Regions from separate parts of the Homo sapiens genome. Here all the other regions are reported to be linked to region 1. Evidence: microRNA targets listed by miRTarBase, many of them from high-throughput screens and not tested one by one. Region 1 holds a microRNA gene; each other region holds the end of a gene's coding sequence. Distances are from middle to middle.

Region 1 (7,000 bases):
GTAATTTAGTAAAAGCAGATAATAATTAAACCAAGTAAATGTTTCTTTCTCGGTTTCCAGATTTAACTTAGTTATATCATTTTAGGCCAGCCATTGCCAGCTGAAATGACACTTGCCCAGCTTTTAACTCTCCTATATGACCGAAAACTTCCTCAGGGTTACCGCTCAATAGATCTGACTGTTAAATTGGGATCAAGAGTTATAACAGACCCCAGTCTATCAAAAACAGATTCTTATAAAAGACTACACCCTGAAAAAGGTATGTGCATAATACTACTTTAAAAATTACAGACTGTCATACAAAGAGGCAGAGATTTCTATAGCTAATGACTTAATTGACTTGTGTTTTTATTATATCAACATAAGATATAATTTTTTTATGACTGAATTTTTGTAAATATAAAAAATGGCCATTATTTCATTTGGAAACTAAGTTGCATTATTTCTTATAACATCATTTGTTTTATGAGCGCATGTACTTTAATTTCTGATATTTCTGTGAGAGCTATGTGAATTGTCATTTTATAATAAAAGTGAGAAACTCAACTTACAACTTTGTTATAATTTATATTGAGTGGCATTTCTTGCATATAAACATGTTTTCTCATATAATTGGGATCACATATTTTTGTTTTTTACTTATATATTCCATTAATTTTTTTTGAGACAGAGTCTTTTTCTGTCTCCCAGGTCGGAGTGCAGAGGCACGATCTTAGTTCACTGCAACCTCCGCCTCCCGAGTTCAAGTGATTTTCCTGCCTCAGCCTCCCGAGAAGCTGGGATTACTGGCACCCACCACCATGCCTGGCTAATTTTTGTATTTTTTGTAGAGAGAAGGTTTCACCATGTTGGCCAAGCTACTCTGTAACTCCTGACCTCAACTTATCTGCCCGCTTCGGCCTCACAAAGTGCTGGGATATAGGCATGAGCCACCGCACCCGGCCCTTATATTCCATTAAATATTTTTGAATATCCATTTTTGAATTGGCTATTTTTTCATAAAAATGTAAGAAAATTTATTTGTTCCCCAATCATCGAAACATTGTGGTTGTTTCCAATTTTTACTCCTATAAATGCTATATAAGTAGTTTTCATAGTGTGAGTATGATATGAACTTACTTAAACTTTCCATCTTTCTCATGACTAAAATTCAGTCTTTAGTTATTGGTCTTTTGTATTCTTCAGCAAATTTTGGTACATTGTCTTTGCCCAGTTTTTCAGCACGATTATTTCTCTCTTTTGTTTTAATGTTTAAAGGGTCTGGTTACGTGACCTTTTGGTTTTCTTTGGTGAGTAATTCAGAGTTAAACTAATATGGTATAATTTTTTGTTTTAAGTAAGGGAAGTCTTTGTCATTAATTTTTCTTAATAGGATACTTTAGAGCATATTATTTGCTATGAGAACTTTGAGAACTTATTTATTTTAACATAGGATATACGTTAAAGTATGCCCTAAAGGACAGTGCTTCTCAAACTTCAGTATGCTTACAAATGACCAGCATCATACTGTTAAAATGGAGATTCTTCATTTCAAACTAGCTTGCAGGTGATGCCAATACTACTAGTCCATGAACCATTCTTCCAATAACAAGACTAAAGAAGGCAGTATCAGAAGTCATTTAAAGGTCATTGTACCGTCTAGCCATAATACAGCTATATCTAAATAAATGATGTTTTGTGCTCTTTTTTGAGTAGCAAGAAAGCAGTAATACCTGCTTTTGTAAATGAAAGAATATTATAAAAATATACCCTTTCTTACCTATTCAGTTATTTGTAATTTATTGTCTAGATCATGGAGACTTACTTGCTAGCTGTCCAGAAGATGAGGCTCTCACTCCAGGTGATGAATGCATGGATGGGATACTGGATGAATCTTTGCTTGAAACCTGTCCAATTCAGTCACCATTACAAGTTTTTGCAGGAATGGGTGGACTGGCTCTTATTGCTGAAAGACTACCCATGCTATATCCAGAAGTAATTCAACAGGTAAGATAAGATTTCCTAATCGAGTATATCATTCCATAGCTAAGCCCTTCATTCTTTTTAATGTTTGTTTTTTAATGTACTTGGATTAACTTTGTAGAAATACCCTTTGCTTTATATTTTTTGAACATTATATAACTCTTTCAATGGTCAGTCTGTACAGAGCTTCATGACCTTCAGTAGGTATGGAAGAAATGTTGAAGATCAAGCACACTTGCCAGACTTACTACACTGTTGCATTTATCTTGATTTCATGGTTGTAACACTAGCATTCTCTTTTCTATGCTGCTTTAAGTGTGATATTTATTAGAGATATTATTGGAAATAGGAGAAGTAAAATAGCAGTGTATACTGCCACCAATATATGTCTTTTTGTTTACCTTTTATTCCTGTTTCAGGTGCCATTTCCATTTTTGGTGGTTTAAAAACATGACCTATTCCCGTGTTCATTTACGAAGCTGTCAATGTCTGTGCTTTCCATGCTCTTGTATCAATCAGTAGGAAGTATGGTGCATGGAGAGTTGTAAAAACAAAACTTTGTGTTTGTTGAATGAAGTAGGGGAATTATTCTCTTTGATTTCATGTCGTGTGTGTGTGTGTGTGTGTGTGTGTGTGTGTGTGTGGTTATTTTGGTATAGTAGCTCTAGACTCTATTATAGTTTCCTGAGCTGCTGTACCAAAATACCACAAACGGGCTGGCTTAAAACAACTGAAATTTATTCTCAATAGTTGAGGAGGCTGTAAGTCTGAAATCAAGATATCAGCAGGGCCATGCTCCCTCTGAATTCAGGCTGTAGGGAAGACTCCTTCCTTGCTTCTTCCTGGCTTCTATTGGTTGCCAGTAGTTCTTGCTGTTCATTGGTTTGTAGCTGAATCACTTTAATTTCTGCCTACGTCGTCATATGGCCATCTTTCCTGTGTGTCCTTGTATCTCTTTCTCCTTATAAGGACACCAGTCATTTAATGTAGGGTCCTGCAAACCATTATCTCCTCATCTTAACTTGATTACATCTGCAAAGGCCCCATTTCCAAATAAGGTCATCTTCATAGGTGCTAGGGGTTAGGACTTGAACATATCTTGGGAGGACAAAATGCAACACACAATAATACTTATTCATGTTATTGCTTCCCTAGTATTCAAAAATATAAGATGATATAACTATGTTATAAGGTGATTGACACAGAATGAGCAAAATTTTCTTACTAGACAATGACATAATTACTCAAAAGTTTGAAGCAGAAAAGACCCCAACATTTTCAGCATTATTATTGCTCAACATAAATGATTTTTTCTAATTTAGTATTCAGTGTGGTTCACTATATTGATTAGTAACTGGAAATGGGGTCCTGGTAATACATACCTAAGAATGTGAAAGTGACTTTAGAATTGGGTACTTGGCAGAGTATGGAATAATTTTGAGTAGCATGATTTAAAAAAAAAATCTAGATTACCTTGAATAGATTGTTAGATAAAATGTGGATGATAAAGCTTCTGCCAGTGAGGGCCCAGAAGGAAGTAAGGATCATAGGGGAGAAAACCTACAGTGTCTTAGAGAATATCTGAATTGTCATAAGCAGACTTGGTAGACATACAGGTGTTTAAAGTGCTGACAAGGTGGTTTAGAAGGAAATGAGGAACATGTTACCGGAACCTGAAGGAAAAGGGATCTTTGTCATATAGAAGCAGAACTATTAACTCATTTGTGTCCTAAATATAGAAAGCAGCACTTCTGCTGTAATGAACTTGGATGTAATGAACTTACATGTAATGAACATGTAATGAACTTGGATGTTTAGCTGAGATTTCCACACAAAGTGGTGAAAGTACAACCTGTCTTTTTCTTGCTGCTTATAGTGAAATGTGCGAGGAAAGATATAAATTGAGAGAAGAACTGTTGAAAAACAAGCAATCAGTGCTTGTCAATTTGTGAAATTACCTATCCAGATCACAGAAGGTGCTAAAATTTAGATATTTGCTATCAGAAAAGCATGCTCCAAAGTATAAGCCAAGAGTGAGGCTGGACAACCTTTTGCTAGTGCCTTAGAAACATCAAAAGTCAGAGTATTCAGTCACATAGAGGGCTCTTTGAAGAGATTAGGCATGTAACTCATGGATCTCCTCAGCCGTCTAAGCATAAGCGAGGAATAGAGGATATGATGTGATGATGGAAGCATCCAAGAGCCATGGAACGTAAGTAGCCTCTGGAAGCTGGAAAAGGTGAGGAACTGTTATTTCCTAAGAGCCTCCAGAAGCAATGCATCCTTTGATTTTAGTCCCATAAGACCTGTTTTGGATTTCTGACCTCTGGAATTTTAAAATAATAAATTGTGCTGTTCTGAGCCACTGAGTTTGTGGCAATGTGTTATAGCAGCAGTAGAAAACTAATACAGAGTTTGGTCTGTAGTTGTAATGCCTTTGTCTGGTTTTGGTGTCAGGATACTACTAGCTATATGGGATGGGTTGAGAATTTCTAATATATCAAATTAAGGATACTGTTAGGTGTGTTTAATAAGAGACACTGTCTGGGCATGGTGTAATCCTAGCCTGTAATCCTGTAATCACACTTGTAATCCCAGCACTTTGGGAGGCCAAGGCAGGAGGGTCACCTGAGGTCAGCAGTTCGAGATCAGCCTGGCCAACATGGTGAAACCCCGTCTCTACTAAAAATACAAAAATTAGCCCGGTGTGGTAGTGGGTGCCTGTTATCCCAGCCGTTCAGGAGGCTGAGGCAAGAGAATTGCTTGAACCCGGGAGGTGGAGGTTGCAGTGAGCCGAGATGGCTTCATTGCACTCAAGCTTGGGTGACAAGAGTGAAATTCCATCTCAAAAAAAAAAAAAAAAAGAGACACTGCAGATTGCAACAGTAGTGAACTGGAAGATGTATCAAAAGAAATCATTCGGCTTGGCGCGGCAGCTAATGCCTGTAATCCCAGCACTTTGGGAGGCCGAGGCAGGCGGATCACCTGAGGTCAGGAGTTTGAGATCAGCCTGGCCAACATGGTGAAACCCCATCTCTACTAAAAGTACAAAAATTAGCTGGGCGTGGTGGTGGACGCTTGTAATCCCAGCTACTCGGGAGGCTGAGGAAGGAGAATTGCTTGAACCCAGGAGGCAGAGGCTGCAGTTAACCAAGATCGCACCACTGCACTCCAGCCTGGGTGACAGAGCAAGACTCTGTCTCAAAAAAAAAAAAAAAAAAAAAAAAAAAAATGGTTCAAATGGAAGCATAGAAAGTGTAAGGAATGAGAAGAACATAAGAGCTGTATGGACTGAAGTGAAAAATTCTAACTTACATGAATTTATAGTCCGAGAAGAAGAGTGAGTTGAAACATGGACAGAAACAGTATTGAGAAGAAGAAAAATTTCCCAAATAGATGTAAAACTTAAATCTCAATTCAACATGTAAGAAACTGTTAACTCATGCAGGATATGCATGCCTGGAACTGTCATGGTAAAAGTGGTTAAAAACAAAGACAGCTGGCCACTGCAGTGCATCTCTGAAATCCCAGCTACTCAGGAGACTGAAGCGGGAGGATTACTTGAGCCCACGGGTTCCAGACCACCTGGGCAACATAACAAGACCTCATACCCCCAAAAAAGCAAAAAAAAAAAAAAAAAAAAAAAAAAGCTAAGACAATGAGAGAATATAAAAACCAGCTATAAAGAAAATGACCTATATTTTCAAAACAGCAGCAATAACACTAACAACTGGCCTTTCAACAGAAACCATATGAGCCAGGGAATTACAACTTTATTTTATTTTATTTTTTAAATTATACTTTTAGGGTACATGTGCACAACGTGCAGGTTTGTTACACATGTATACATGTGCAATGTTGGTATGCTGCACCCATTAACTCATCATTTAACATTAGGTATGTCTCCTAATGCTATCCGTCTCCCCTCCTCCCACCCCACAACAGGCCCCGGTGTGTGATGTTCCCCTTCCCTGTGTCCATGTGTTCTCATTGTTCAATTCCCACCTATGAGTGAGAACATGCAGTGTTTGGTTTTTTCGTCCTTGCGATAGTTTGCTGAGAAAGATGGTTTCCAGCTTCATCCATGTCCCTACAAAGGACATGAACTCATCATTTTTTATGGCTGCATAGTATTCCATGGTGTATATGTCCCACATTTTCTTAATCCAGTCTATCACTGTTGGACATTTGGCTTGGTTCCAAGTCTTTGCTATTGTGAATAGTGCTGCAATAAACATACGTGTGCATGTGTCTTTATAGCAGCATGATTTATAATCCTTTGGGTATATACCCAGTAATGGGATGGCTGGGTCGAATGGTATTTCTAGTTCTAGATCCCTGAGGAATTGCTACACTGACTTCCACAATGGTTGAACTAGTTTACAGTCCCACCAACGGTGTAAAAGTGTTCCTATTTCTCCACATCCTCTCCAGCACCTGTTGTTTCCTGACTTTTTAATGTTCGGCATTCTAAGTGGTGTGAGATGGTATCTCATTGTGGTTTTGATTTGCATTTCTCTGATGGCCAGTGATGATGAGCATTTTTTCATGTGTCTTTTGGCTGCATAAATGTCTTCTTTTGAGAAGCATTTGTTCATATCCTTCGCCCACTTTTTGATGGGGTTGTTTGTTTTTTTCTTGTAAATTTGTTTGAGTTCATTGTAGAGTCTGGATATTAGCCCTTTGTCAGATGAGTAGATTGCAAAAATTTTGTCCTATTCTGTATGTTGCCTGTTCACTCTGATGGTAGTTTGTTTTGCTGTGCAGAAGCTCTTTAGCTTAATTAGATCCCATTTGTCAATTTTGGCTTTTGTTGCCATTGCTTTTGGTGTTTTAGACATGACGTCCTTGCCCATGCCTATGTCCTGAATGGTATTGCCTAGGTTTTCTTCTAGGGTTTTTATGGTTTTAGGTCTAACATTTAAGTCTTTGATGCATCTTGAATTAATTTTTGTATAAGGTGTAAAGAAGGCATCCAGTTTCAGCTTTCTACATATGGCTAGCCAGTTTCCCAGCACCATTTATTAAATAGGGAATC
Region 2 (7,131 bases), not on the chromosome of region 1:
GGGGATTAATATCAAGATATATAGAGAACTCCTAAAACTCAACAATGGCAACAAAACAAACAACCAGATTCAAAAGTGGACAAAGGACTTAAATAGGCATTTCTCCAAAGAAGATATACAAATGACCAACAAGCACATAAAAAGATGCTCAACATCACTAATTATTAGCGCAAGGGAAATCAAGTCTACATCATCACACCCATTACCATGGCCATTAAATAAACAAAAACAAAAACAGAAAACAACAAGTGTTGGTGAGTATATGAGGAACTTGGAACCCTTGTATACTGTTGGAGGGAATGTAAAATGATAGAGCTTCTAAGGAAAACAGTATGTCAGATCCTCAAAAAATTAAAAATGTACCCTTTAATTTATAAATAATTACCATATAATACAGTAATTCCACATCCAGGTGTGTGTGTGTGTGTGTGTGTGTGTGTGTGTATGTGTGTGTATATATATATATATACACACATCAGCTATACCCACCAACATTCCCACCAACAGTATACAAGGGTTCCAAGTTCACCACATACTAACACTTGTTGTTTTCTGTTGTGTGTGTGTATGTTTTAGTGGCCATTTTAATGGGTGTGATGTGATATCTCATGGTAGATTTGATCTGTCTTTCCCTAATAATTAGTGATGTTGATCATCTTTTCATGTGCTCGTTGGTCATTTGTATATCTTCTTTGGAGAACTGCCTATTCAAGTCCTTTCCCCACTTTTCATGTATATATACTCAAAAGAATTGAAAGCAAGATCTCTAAGAGATTATTTGTACACTTATGTTCATAGCATCATTATTCACAAGAGCTAAATTGCTGTAAGCAACCCAGGTGTCCATTGATGGATGAATGGATAAAGAAATGTAGCATATACATAAAATGACATATTATTCTGTCTTAAAAAGCAAGGAGATTCTGACACACTACAACACTGATGAACCTTGAGGACATCATGCTATGTAAAAGAAGTCAGTCACAAAAGGACAAATACTGTATGATTCCACTTATAAATGAGGTATTTAGAATAGTCAAAAACATAAAGACAGGAAGTGGGATGTTGGCTGCCATAGACTGAGGGCAGGGAGGAATGGGGAGTTACTGTTTAATGGGTATAGAGTTTCAGTTTTGCAACATGAAAAGGGTTCTGGAGGTAGACAGTGGTGATGGTTGCATAATATAAATATAAAAATGTGCTTAATAACTACTGAACTGTACACTTACCATGGTTAAGACACGAAATTTTATGCTGTGCATTTTACCACAATAAAAATGGAAAAAAATAATTAGAAATAGCTAGTTAGGACCTATATTTTTACAAAATAATAGAAAAAACTTTCAGACAAAAAATTAAGAATGAGAAATAAAACAGAACTACACCAATGGGAAATTCAAAGGATTATGAGAATAAATCATAAACTCCTATGCAAATAAATTCAAAAATCTGTATGAATGGCTGATTTTTTTTAGCAAAACAAATGATCAAGAGTGAACCAAGAAGAGCAAAAGGAAGAGAGAGAGAGAATGTTGTGAGAGGGAAAAATAAAGTATCTCAAAAAAGTGCCAAGCCTAGGCAATTTTACTAGTGAGTTCTTTCAGAACTTCAGGGAACACATAAAGCTGATATTTTAAAAATCTTTCCAGGGCACCAAGGCCAATGGGAGTTAGTAGCATCCATATGGGATTGTTAGGAACATGAGTTGATAAATCCACAGCAGGACAAAATGCATGATTTGCAAAGTCAACAAGTCTGTTATCTTGACAGCCATAGGGTGGTACTTGAAGGAATTAAAACAGCAAGTGAGGGCAGAAGTTCTGCAGGACTGTTGGGGGTCTGTTATGATTCTATTTGAGCAAAATGTCACTTTCTCATTACATTCATATTTGAAATAGAAATTTATTGGTTGTAAAGCTTTGTATTTTAATTTGTAAATGTTTCGGTTTTCAGATAAAAAGCATAAGCAGTTTATACTTCATATTATGTTTGTACGTATTTAAATAACAGTAAAGTAGAAAAAAGTCCATGCTGACATTTATGACATTTGTTTTTCCGTTAAAAGGAAGTTTAAGAAACTCTGCTCTAGGTTTTAGAGAAAAAAATATCACACTTCATTGAGCTTGACTTCCTCTGCCTCTTCTCCCCACAGGAAAGGTAGATGTTCATGGGAAAAATCAGAATATAGGTAAAGGAAAAAGGAGCCAAGGAGGATATGGCCTATTTAATCGAGCCTATTGGGTCTATAAAGAAAAGCAAAAAGATTCTCTGCAGATCTACCCAGTCTAGTCCAGCTTACAAGTGACAAGGCTTCCACATGGGACTTCAGAAGCAAAAAAAGCCTTAGAGTTATAGAGTAATTTGTCAAGTTATCCCCTCTGTATGTGGATCTTGAAAACCCACGGCAGCAAGATGCAGCTGGACAAGGATTTGAGATCTTGAGTCTAAGCCATCTTTCTCTCTATAACCAACAGCCATATTGATGCTTTCCCTCAGGATTAGGCATATTCCTGGACAGTTCAGTCCTAGGACCAATGACAGAGTTAGACCAGGTCATTCACTGCAGGCCACACTTGTGGCACAACCAAAGCCTATGCAGAAACTATCAAGGGAACAGATTCAGTGCATTATGTGTAGGTCATAACTGTGCAGAAGAGAATCTAAAAATAGAAAGGGACTTTAGAAATCAGTCCAACTTCTACACTCATGAAGGAATCTCTTCTAAAACATCCTGATGACACAATCTCTTCCTAAAAACTTCAGTGATAATTTACTACTATTCTCTATTACTCTTCAGGAAGGTTCTTTTAACTGTTGAAAAGTAACCTATTTTGGCAAAGTCCTCATTATAATAAAATAATAATCACTACCATATAAATCTTACTGTAGTTTGATTCTCCAGAGCAGAAAAATGTCTACTTCCTTTTTCACATGACAATTGCTCCTCTCCAGGTTATACTATCCTCATTTCAGGGGCATGTAGGATATGGTTTCCAGACTTCTGACCTTCTTAAACCAGTGGTGCCCATAAGACCTCCAGTGGATACATATCAGAACTTCGCATCTTAAAAAAAAAAACAACTTTTATTTCAGATTGAAGGGGTACATGTACAGGTTTGTTACATTGCGTATATATGGTACATTGCATAATGGTGAAGTTTGGGCTTCTAGTGGACCCATCACTCAAACAGTGAACATTGTACCCAATACATATTTTGTCAACCCTCATGTCCTTCCCATCTGATATGATTAGGCTTTCTGTCCCCGCCCAAATCTCATCTTGAATTGTAATCCCCATAATCCCCAGGTGTTGAGGAAGGAACCAGGTGGGGGTAATTGAATCATGGGGGCAGTTTCCCCCATGCTGTTCTCATGATAGTAAGTTCTCATGAGATCTGATGGTTTTATAAGCATCTGCCATTTCCCCTGTTGGCACTCTCTCTCCTGCTGCCTTGTGAAGAAGGTGCTTGCTTCTGTTTCGCCTTCAGCCATGCTTGTGAGTTTCCTGAGGCCTCCTCCCCAGCCATGCAGAACTGCGAGTCATTTAAACCCCTTTTCTTTATAGATTACCCAGTCTCGGGTATTTCTTTGTAGCAGCATGAGAATGGACTAATACACCACCCTTCTCACTTTGGAATCCTGTGTCCACATGTACCCACTGTTTAGCTCCCACTTATAAGTGAGAACATGTGGTATTTGATTTTCTGTTTCTGAATTATTTCAGTTAGGATAATGGCTTCCAGCTGCATCCATGTGGCTTTAAAGCACATGGTTTCATTATTTTTTATGGCTGCAAAGTATTCCATGGTGTATATGTACCACATTTTCTTATTCCAGGCACCACTGATGGACACTTAGGTTGAGTCCATGATTTTGTTACTGTGAATACTGCTGTGATAAACATACCACTGCAAGTGTCTTTTTGATAAAACGATTTATTTTCCTTTGGGTAGGTACCCAGTAGAGGGATTGCTGGGTTGAATAGAACATTTTTAGTTCCAGCACATGATCTTGTGCTCTCACTCTTTCTCTTCCTCTCTCATTAAGTGGCAAGTTAACATAAGTAAACTTAACTTTGTGCAAAAAATGCTTTCCAAAGAGGAAGGTGAGGAAAAAAAGTAATCGTAAATAAGAAAATCAATCTCCATGCACTACTGAAATCTGCTATTTAATGTATTCTGTATGTGATACCTTTGTAAGAATATTTTTGTAATTTTTATGTTTTATGAGATAAAAATGTTTTGTATGCCACATTTCCTAGAAAGGTCCTGCTGTACCTCATTTCCCTTACCTTTAAAATAAATCGCCATAATAGATATAATCTTCGTATTTCACATAACTGATGAAAATGCCTTTGTTATTGTTAGAAGTAAAGATCTACTTAAAGAGAAAGTTTTAAAAGTTGTGTAGGTTTTTGTCTCACTCTATTTTTTAAGATTAAAAGTACTCTACATCCCACCCTAAATGACAGAGTGGCAACACAAGACATAGGTTTAATAATTATTTTAATTACAAATTTCCACCAATTCTTGCCAGTCATATTATTGTGGATATCACAAATGAATTATATAATAGTATATTACCTTATATTCATCTGCATGAAACTTAGGAGAAAGGAGAGCAGAAATGTGTAAGTTTCTGAGAATGACACCATAAAGCTCATATTTACAGTATGGTAGTCTGTAAACATACAGGCCTGCCAGTTAAAGCCCACTCTTCTATCATCACCCAGCTGCATGACCCTGAGCAAGTCACTTTTGTTTGCTAATTTTTAATATCATCTATCACCTGACTTCTCTATCTACGAGAGTTAACTGGCTGCATGCAAAATACCATGAAAAATACCATGCACTTTTAAGTGTGAAGTAGCACTGTAAAGTGACTTATATATTACTGGTCTTTCTATTTTTAGAGTATTAATATTCATACATCAGTTAAAAGTCAACATGTGTTTGCTAAGTGATCCTTTTGAAAGGATCCCTTTAAAAGTTCCTAGGCATCAGCTTCACTGACAATCTGGTATGATTCTGAAGCCAGCATTTCAACTCTTGGAAAGATATACAATAGTCACAGCTTGAATTAGTAACTAATAAAATAAAATGCCCTCTTATTCTCCAAAATGTAATAATTCAGGAGTAATGACATCAAGATTTTTCTCCTCAAACTGAGGAGAAAAAAGCCCCACCGTGGCTTGTTTAAATGACTTAAAATACAAGTGGTAACTATGGTGACTAGGGAACCAATGTTTAAAACATCAAAAGATTATTACAAAAATCCAATTTCCCATGAATTTCTAAAAATTAAAATTCTGAGATGTTGTGTCTGAGAAACTGCTTCTTCAGCAAAATATTTAGCACAGACTACATCATCCCAAATCTATGGTATGGCCAGGTATTTAGGTCCTTCAACCAACGTTTTTAGAAAGGGTCCCGTTGCTCTTTACTTGCAAAATGACTATCTCTAGGGCCTCAAAATTCAAGAGACAACCTAGCTTTTATAATGTTAAAAAGGGAAGACTTTGGCATGTAAACTAGAACTACATGATTGTGAATATTTGGCAAATTGATCTCTATGTGTATATACAAGCTATAGCTAACATGATTATTACAAGTTTTTTGGAAGCTTGAAGGCCAAGGAAAATAATCTGCACATATAACTTTCTGATTTATCAAGTACTGAGATATTAATGAATTCTTCATATTGTTACTCCTGTATCAGTTCTTTAGAATTTCTTAGCCTTTGGGTACTCTAAGCCTTGGATGGAACCATTTAGGGAGTAGCTAGATATATGCAAAGAATATTAGGATTTAGAAACATTTCTGGTTTATCAAAGTGAAAAGATAAATATTACAAACACTGAAAATGTGAAAATAAGGTTCAAGAGAGCTGCAAACTATGTGGGTACCAGTTAGAAAGTATCTTCATCTGACTCATCACTCTTGGGTTTGGTAAGTCTTTCTAGTTCTTCTCCATCCTAAAAGGAAACATGAAAGCAGTAATTAGAACAAAACTGGAAATGTAGCATTTTTAAAGGGAAAACCTTACTAACAAATCACTGGTCTTACCTCATTAAGCTATAGATATAATCTGGTCAAATTAAATAAATACTTATGTTCTTGGAAAGTTAACTATAGAAGTATGAGAGGATAAAAAAGTGAAGTGTACTCAGTACTCAAAATTTCAAAGCTAACATGAGCAAAGTGAGGAGCACCACCTGCTGGTCTTGCAGAAAAATGATTAAAGGTTACAGAAATAGGTCTTCATAGGCCTTGTTACCTATATAGATTTTCTTTTGCTTAAAAATTAGAGCAAATGGCATTATCGGCTGTTGGAAAAGAATACAAGACTTCTGGATATACACTCTGGCTAAGAGCAGGGTATCCGAAACTCAAGATCCTAATTTTTTCATCTTTAGAATCTGTTGAATCATGACAGAGGCATTACACCCAGGGAAGCTCTGCTATGAATGTTATTAAGCAATAGATTATTTTTCCCAAAGAGTGAAATGTTCACTGTATAAAATATTTCATATTTTGTGTGCTCAAGAAAATTGTAAATCTAAAGCTAGATGTCTATTTCACTTATTTAAACGTATATTTAACTCCTTAATTGAATCTTCAAAGAGATCATTAACTTGCCAATAAAATGATTGACAGAGCCTTCCAAAACAATTGCAAGCAACTGGGAGATATTCGGAATAATTGCATAAGCATTTTTCTAGAAAATATTTTCCTCCTACTCGCCTTGCAAGGATCCTCTTGAAAACTACCTTTCTAGTGAAATAAACAAACCCTGCCCTTCTGGCATACTGGCTTATGAATAACCACAGGGAGGACTGAGGAGCCAGGCTTTCTATTCAACAGGACTTACTAATACGAAAGGCCAACTTCTCTCACAAATGAGCTTATTTTCCCTAACTATGGTGGAAAAGAAAGAGAAAGGGACTTGGAGTCAGACATAGGTGTACCAGTTCTTTCATTTATTATCTGTAAACCATTTTGCCTGTTTCTTGTAAAACTATGCAGACAGGACAAGACAACCTGTGAGGTATCTTCCAGGTGTATAATTCTATAGTATTCTATGAAGTAACACATAAGGTCCTTGAGATTGACTTATACTTTTTCTCTACAC
Region 3 (7,131 bases), 150 Mb from region 1:
ATGTGCTTTGGGTAGAGGGTTTTCAGTAGTATATTTTTTCCCTCCTGCTCTCGTCTTTTTTTGTGTTGTACCAAATAAAGAATCAAGAAATGAAGTAACTAAAATGTCTAATTCTGGAGGGTGTGCTCACAGTTCACCACATTTCATTTAGATCATTAACTTTTTAAAAGCTTCAGATAGGCCAAGCTGTATCAATGCTGTCCCATCAGATCTATCACATTCATTATTAATACAATATTGCCCCCATCAGCATTGGTCTTGCACTGTGTCTCTTTTCACTTGGAAAGTATCATTTGCAAGTTACCTGAAATGTTTTTCATTTATTGACCTCATGCTGGTATGTGATTACCTTTTCCACTTCACATTGTTATGAGCTATTTGTGTCACATTTTACTACATCGTAAGTTTAAATATTTTTAAGTAACTTTCTGCCAGGATAAAATATGTGCAAGGGTAGAAAATTTTTTCCTTGCTGATTATTTAAACAGATTTGCAAGCCATTGACACTAGCTTATTTATGAGAACACTAAGTATACTCTGGAGTATTTCTGGCTTTCTGTTTAGCTTATAGTTATGATTTTATTTTATGTTTCCACATATATTTCCTGTGGTTTTTTTCTTATTTATATACACTTATCTACTAAGTTGTTAGGTTTTATGTGTACTTTACTGATACATTTGGCTACAAAGTTGTTAGGTTTTCATGTGTACTTTACTGATACATTTGACTACTAAGTTATTAGGTTTTTATGTGTACTTTACTGATACATTTGGCTACTAAGTTGTTAGGTTTTAATGTGTTCTTTACTGGATTACTTTAGTTTAATGAAAGATACTGTTTCAGAATTCCAAACATCATTAAAGCATTTCAATCATGGGTTAGTAGGTAAGGGAGGTACAGGTTGATTGATTGATTGATTGAGTTTCCATTTGTTGCTGGTAATGAATTTTATTTCAATAATCAAATAAATTGAATCAAATAAATCAATAAAACTGAATATTTACTTTATACTTTCAAGTAGTATAAGAATGTGCAATTGATATAATAACCTTTCTCAAATGAATAATGAAGATTTTTGTTTGTTTTTTTTTTTGTAGGATGGAGTGGTTCTTGTTCATTGTAATGCAGGCGTTTCCAGGGCTGCTGCAATTGTAATAGGTTTCCTGATGAATTCTGAACAAACCTCATTTACCAGTGCTTTTTCTTTGGTGAAAAATGCAAGACCTTCCATATGTCCAAATTCTGGCTTCATGGAGCAGCTTCGTACATATCAAGAGGGCAAAGAAAGCAATAAGTGTGACAGAATACAGGAGAACAGTTCATGAGTTGCATTGTAGCAGACAATGGACAACTGTAGTTTCTGAATTGACTTCTATAGCCATCTTTTCCCTTTTTTGGAGAGTAGACTAGCAAAACTCCCTTTTTTCTCTTGCCTTTTTTATGCATAAATGGAGGTCAATTTGATTGTCCTGACCTACTGTATAAGTAAATTTCAAATGTCATTACTTTCTCTTTGTTATTATAATGTGTGATTAAATGCTTTTTTAAATTGCTAAGGGAAAATAACAAAGTGTTAGTAATCATTGCTTTCTGTAGAAGAAAAAGGTTTAAATTTAAAATGTGTATTTAGAGCATGGAGAGAATCATTTAATGAAGCCTATTTTTCTGTTCCAGCAACTGTTTTTATGAAAGAAAAACTTGAAATGCTACTTAACTTACTATTTCAAAGGGAAGTATATTTCTTTTTAAAGAATCTTTTTAAGATTAAAAATGAATACCTTAAATCTCCCAAAAGAGATAACCAGTATCTGAAGGTTTATACAATATTTACACAGTGGCTACAATATTCACAAAATTCTTATGTTCTCTTATGAAAAATATACACTTTTCATTTTGTCTTCTTCTTTTTTTTTCTTTTTTTAGATGGAGTTTGGCTCTTGTCACCCAGGCTGGAGTGCAATGGCGCAATCTCAGCTCACTGCAACCTCTGCCTCCCGGGTTCAAGCGATTCTCCTGCCCCAGCCTCCCATATAGCTGGGATTATAGGTGCCTGCCACCATGCCCAGCTAATTTTTGTGTTTTTAGTAGAGATGGAGTCTCACCACATAGGCCAGGCAGTCTCGAACTCCTGACCTCAGGTGATCCACCCACCTTGGCCTCTCTAAATACTGGGATTACAGGCGTGAGCCACTGCATCCGACCTCATTTTGTTTTTTTCAATTCTGTTATCGGCATTTCTTTCTTTTTTTTTTTAATGTATAGGTGTTCTGTCATACGTTATTGTGAGCTTTGGTTCTTTGAACAGGTGATCTATTCTCTTACATTTTGTGCTTTTTATCTTGGGTGCCTAGCATTCTGTTTTTTTGATCCTATGTCATAATTTTTTGAGAAAATGTTTGATACTGCAAGATCATTGTTTAGTGGTCTGTTTTCTACTTCAGTATTCTACCAGAGAACATATTTTTTAGGGGAGAAGGGTTATGGTTTTGTAAGAAACTTTAAATATACTTTTAGGAGACCCACAATCATTTACAGTTTTATCTTTGGCCTTTGAATAGGTTCTTTTTTCTTTAATGTCTCCGTATTTGAAGAACTGAGCTCTGTACATTATAAATTTGCTTAAAGATTTTGATTTTTTCTTCAGAATATGGTATACTTAAAATTAATTAATTAAGACAGTTTCTTTTTTCTTTTCTTTTTTTTTTTTTTCGAGACAGGGTCTTGCTCTGTCACCTAGGCTAGAGTGGAGTGGCATGAACACAACGCACTGCAGCCTCTACCTCCTGGGCTCAAGCAGTCCTCCCACCTCAGTCTCCTGAGTAGCTGAGACTACAGCTGTGCGCCACCACATCTGGCTAATTTTATTTTTATTTTTGTAGAGACAGGAGTCTTGCCATGTTGCCCAGGCTGATCTCAAACTCCTAGGCTTAAGTGATCCTCCCGCCTTAGCCTCCCAAGTGCTAGGATTACAGGCATCAGCCACCACGCCTGGCCTGATAGTTTCCACATAGTTTTTCATGACTTAGAAGATATCATTGCCATGTAGGTTTTATTTTTAAAAGTCTTGAGCTCTTCTTAAATATACATTATAAAGAGCAAGCATAGATGGAAAGTGCATATTGAACACATCTGTGCATTTGAGAAGGCAGGCTTTCATATGCTGTCATGAGCAAAAAGTAGAAGTGATAAATGCAAGTTATGTTTTGAGATTGCTTACACCGTGACAAGATGCCATCACTTGTGATGTTATGAACTGTTATAAACTCTTTGCTTCTGCTAAGAAGCAGTCTAAATATAATCAACGTACAGTGAGCTCTTTGAAGCCAACCAAGGCAGGCAGAACCCTCTTAAATATGAGACTGATGTATAGGTTCTCTCTATGGTCAGTATCACTGGATAAGCCTTCTCCTTTCATAAGAAAGGATGTATTTAAATACATTTTATTTTGCTAAATCCTGTTTAGTTTTCAGCCATTAAATGTCACATGAAGCCTTGATAGAATTTGTTCATAATGGCTCATGTATTATTATTATTTTTGAGATGGAGTTTTGCTCTTAATGATATTATTATTATTTGAGACAGAGTTTTGCTCTTATTGCCCAGGCTGGAGTGCAGTGGCGTGATCTTGGCTCACTGCAACCTCTGCCTCCCAGCTTCAAGCGATTCTCCTGTATCAGCCTCCCAAGTAGCTGGGATTATAGGCATGTGCCACCATGCCCAGCAAATTTTGTATTTTTTTTTGGTAGAGACAGGGTTCAACCATGTTGGTCAGGCTGGTCTCGAACTCCTGACCGCAAGTGATCCACACGCCTTGGTCTCCCAAAGTGCTGGGATTACGGTGTTAGCCACTACACCTGGCCTGGATTGTGTATTATTTATGTCTGTAGTTTATATGCTTAGTTGTTGCCTATAGTGATCTGGGTAAGATTCAAACATTTATCTTTTGTATCTTCTACAGAAGTGCTTTGAGCATCAAATTTGTTTTAACGTTAAATTGTAGTTTGCTGTATTAAAATAGATCAATGAATATAATTCAGTCTTTTAGGGGCACCAAGTAAAGCATAAGGTCATATATACTATACAATATGTTTATTGCACTTCCCATGGGGATAAATCACTCTGTCATTCCTAGTTATTTTAAAAAAAGAACTTTATGATTACGGTCCTCTTTCTCACATACTGCAAACTTAAAAGATACATACACCAAATATAGGTCTGTTTTAAAGGAGAGGAAAAATAGTTCAAGGAGTTTTTGCCTCTTTGTTTTTCAATAGATTATTCTGCCATTTTTTAAAGGAAAGGGAAAATGAAAACAGCATGTCTTTTTAAACATTGAAAAGAAATATGGAGGCTTTAAACCGCAAACTGAAAAAGCTGAGTAGAACAAAGGCAGTGGAGCATACAATACAATTCTATTTATTTGAGGTTAATTGAAGTTAATAATTTTTAAATTTTTTTCTAATTTTATGCCTTAAAATAGGTTTCTGATTACATAAAATTTGAATAGAACACTCAAGAAGTATGTAGATTTTTGAAAAACCCAAACAATATTCTTCTTAGATTTTTGGAGGCAAAATTTAGACCAGTATACTAATTCAAAAGACAAATATTTCAGAGGAAGTGGAGTACAGTATTTAACATTTTGTTTGCAATTTTACTTTTTCTTCCCTTCTTCCCTATTGAACCTTGATTAAAATGTATGAATACAATACTTGGATTTTTTTTTTTCAGCTTAGACTCTGATAATTTCAGTGGTAGTGGGGAAACCTGAATTTGTCAGCATGATTATTTGTAACTCAGATTGTTCAAATGTATATAGAAGGTCCCCTTCAAGTGTTGTTTCTCCAAGTAGTCATAAATGTAGCAAGTATAAATCAGAATATCATCTTATAATCTTACAGAGTTAACCTAATGAGTCAATACCTTTATAAGCAAAACCATGATAAATTTAAAAACAACAGAAATGTGGCATGATTACTTATTTATTTGTTCCAGGTGACTCTAAATAGTTGATTTTTCTGCCTGAAGGATCCTGAACATATTTAGTTACCCTGTAGTTATTTAGGAATTTAAACCAGAAGACTTTGAAGTTGTATATTCTTGCAATGCATAAAATGACATTATAATCAACAAACTTATGGTTTGTTTCAATTGATGCACACAAAAAATAACTTATAGTTAGACTTTTCTATTTCAAGTAAAGCTTTGAGTTACTTGTTTTTATACATATTCATCATGTACCCTTTATTGTTTCTAGGTGTTGATATACTTTAATAAAAATGATATGTTTAATATTTTCCCATTAATATATTTCTTTGAAGCTATTTGTTTTAAAAGATGTAACACTTATTTGCTGTCAAATTCTGAATTAAAAAATCTGTTGGTGGCCAGGCGCAGTGGCTCATGCCTGTAATCCCAACATTTTGGGAGGCCAAGGAGATGGATCACTTGAGGCCAGGAGTTCAAGACCAGCCTGGCCAACATGGCAAAACCCCATCACTAAAAATACAAAAATTACCCGGGCATGGTGGTGGGTGCCTGTAATCCCAGCTTCTTAGGAGGCTGAGGTAGGAGAATTGCTTGACCCTGGGAGGTGGAGGTGGCAGTGAGCCGAGATAGCACCACTGCACTTCTAGTTGACAGAGTGAGACTCTGACTCAAAAAAAAAAAAAAAATGTTGGGAAGACACACAATTTTATATTTTAAAATGTAAGTTAGTTTAGATCTATGAAGATTTGTTGTTCCCGTCTCTTCAAGAAATGAAAAGCCGGCTGGGTGCGGTGGCCTGTAATCTCAGCATTTTGGGAGGCCGAGGCAAGAGGATCACGAGGTCAGGACTTCAAGAGCAGCCTGGCCAATACGGTGAAACCCTGTCTCTACTAAAAATACAAAAAAAATTAGCTGGGCGTGGTGGCACACGCCTGTAGTCCCAGCTGCTTGGGAGGCTGAGGCAGGAGAATCGCTTGAACCTGGGAGGCAGAGGTTGCAGTGAACTGAGATTGCGCCACTGCACTCCAGCCTGGGTGACAGAGCGAGACTCTGTCTCAAAACACAAAAGAGAAAAGCTAAAGTAAGAGCATATAATTGGCATCACTGTGGACAGATTGTCAATGAAAATTCAATAGAATACCTTATTTAAGGTAAGAGAAGATGCTGAGTTACTGTCAGATTAAATTACCCTACATTCTAACTATGACTGCATTGAGATTATTTGTACATAGTGTGGCACCCACCTCCCACGCTCATGCAAACAGGCTGTTATATCTTTGTAATAGTTATTTTAAAATGTACAATAAATTATTGTTGACTGTAGTCACCCTGTTGTGCTATCAAATACTAGATCTTATTCTATCTAGCTATATTTTAATACCCATTAGCCATCACACTTCTTCCCCTCATGCCCCCACTGTTCTTTCCAGCTTCTGGTAACCATCATTCTACTGTCTATCTCCATGTGTTGAACTGTTTTAATTTTTGGCTCCCACAAAGGAGTGAGAACATTTGAAGTTTGTCTATCTGTGCCAGTCTTATTTGACTTAACATAATGTCCTCCAGTTCTATCCATGTTTTTCCAAAGGACGGGATCTTATTCTTTTTTATGGTTGAATAGTACTCCATTATATATATGTACTACATGTTATTTATCCATTCATCTGTTGATGGACACTTAGGTTGCTTCTAAATCTTGGCTATTGTGAATAGTGCCGCAATAAACATGGGAGTGCAGATATCTCTTTGATATATGAATTTCCTTTCTTTTGGGTATTTATCAATGTTCATCAGGGATGTAGGCCAATAGTTTTCTTTTTTAATGTGTCCTTTTGATTATTATTATACTTTTAGTTCTGGGATACATGTGCAGAACTTGGGGGTTTGTTACATAGGTACACATGTGCCATGGTGGTTTGCTGCACCCTTCAACCTGTCATCTAGGTTTTAAGCCCCGCATGCGTTAGGTATTTCTCCTAATGCTATCCCTCCCCTTACCCCCCACCCCTCGACAGGCTCCAGTGTGTGATAATCCCCTCCCTGTGTCCATGTGTTCAGCTCCTACTTATGAGTGAGAACATTTGGTGTTTGGTTTTCTGTCTCTGTGTTAGTTTGCTGAGAATGATGGTTTCTAGCTTCAT

The links. The annotated mature microRNA hsa-miR-558 reads UGAGCUGCUGUACCAAAAU and lies in region 1 at 2,648-2,666, shown strand. An mRNA with a match to its seed (bases 2 to 7 or 8) in the 3' UTR can be bound and repressed. Matches are read on the target gene's strand: a 7mer-m8 pairs with bases 2 to 8, a 7mer-A1 pairs with bases 2 to 7 and ends in A, and an 8mer does both.
Region 2: miRTarBase lists SLC35A5 as a target of hsa-miR-558. Seed matches in the 3' UTR shown: 7mer-m8 at 5,884-5,890.
Region 3: miRTarBase lists DUSP19 as a target of hsa-miR-558. Seed matches in the 3' UTR shown: 7mer-A1 at 1,973-1,979.

Annotation. Positions count from the first base shown.
Region 1 is chr2:32,529,566-32,536,565 of GRCh38, forward strand. It overlaps MIR558 (microRNA 558), which reads left to right and starts at 2,588; the gene lies at 2,588-2,681. BIRC6 (baculoviral IAP repeat containing 6) reads left to right here. Exons shown (of 74, transcript NM_016252.4): 60 at 86-259; 61 at 1,790-1,986.
Region 2 is chr3:112,581,514-112,588,644 of GRCh38, reverse strand. It overlaps SLC35A5 (solute carrier family 35 member A5), which reads right to left. Exons shown (of 7, transcript NM_017945.5): 7 at 3,066-5,974. The coding sequence ends at 5,909. Among named protein-coding and RNA genes, the nearest start is that of SLC35A5, 23 kb to the right of the region's middle.
Region 3 is chr2:183,094,333-183,101,463 of GRCh38, forward strand. It overlaps DUSP19 (dual specificity phosphatase 19), which reads left to right. Exons shown (of 4, transcript NM_080876.4): 4 at 1,099-5,676. The coding sequence ends at 1,326. Among named protein-coding and RNA genes, the nearest start is that of DUSP19, 19 kb to the left of the region's middle.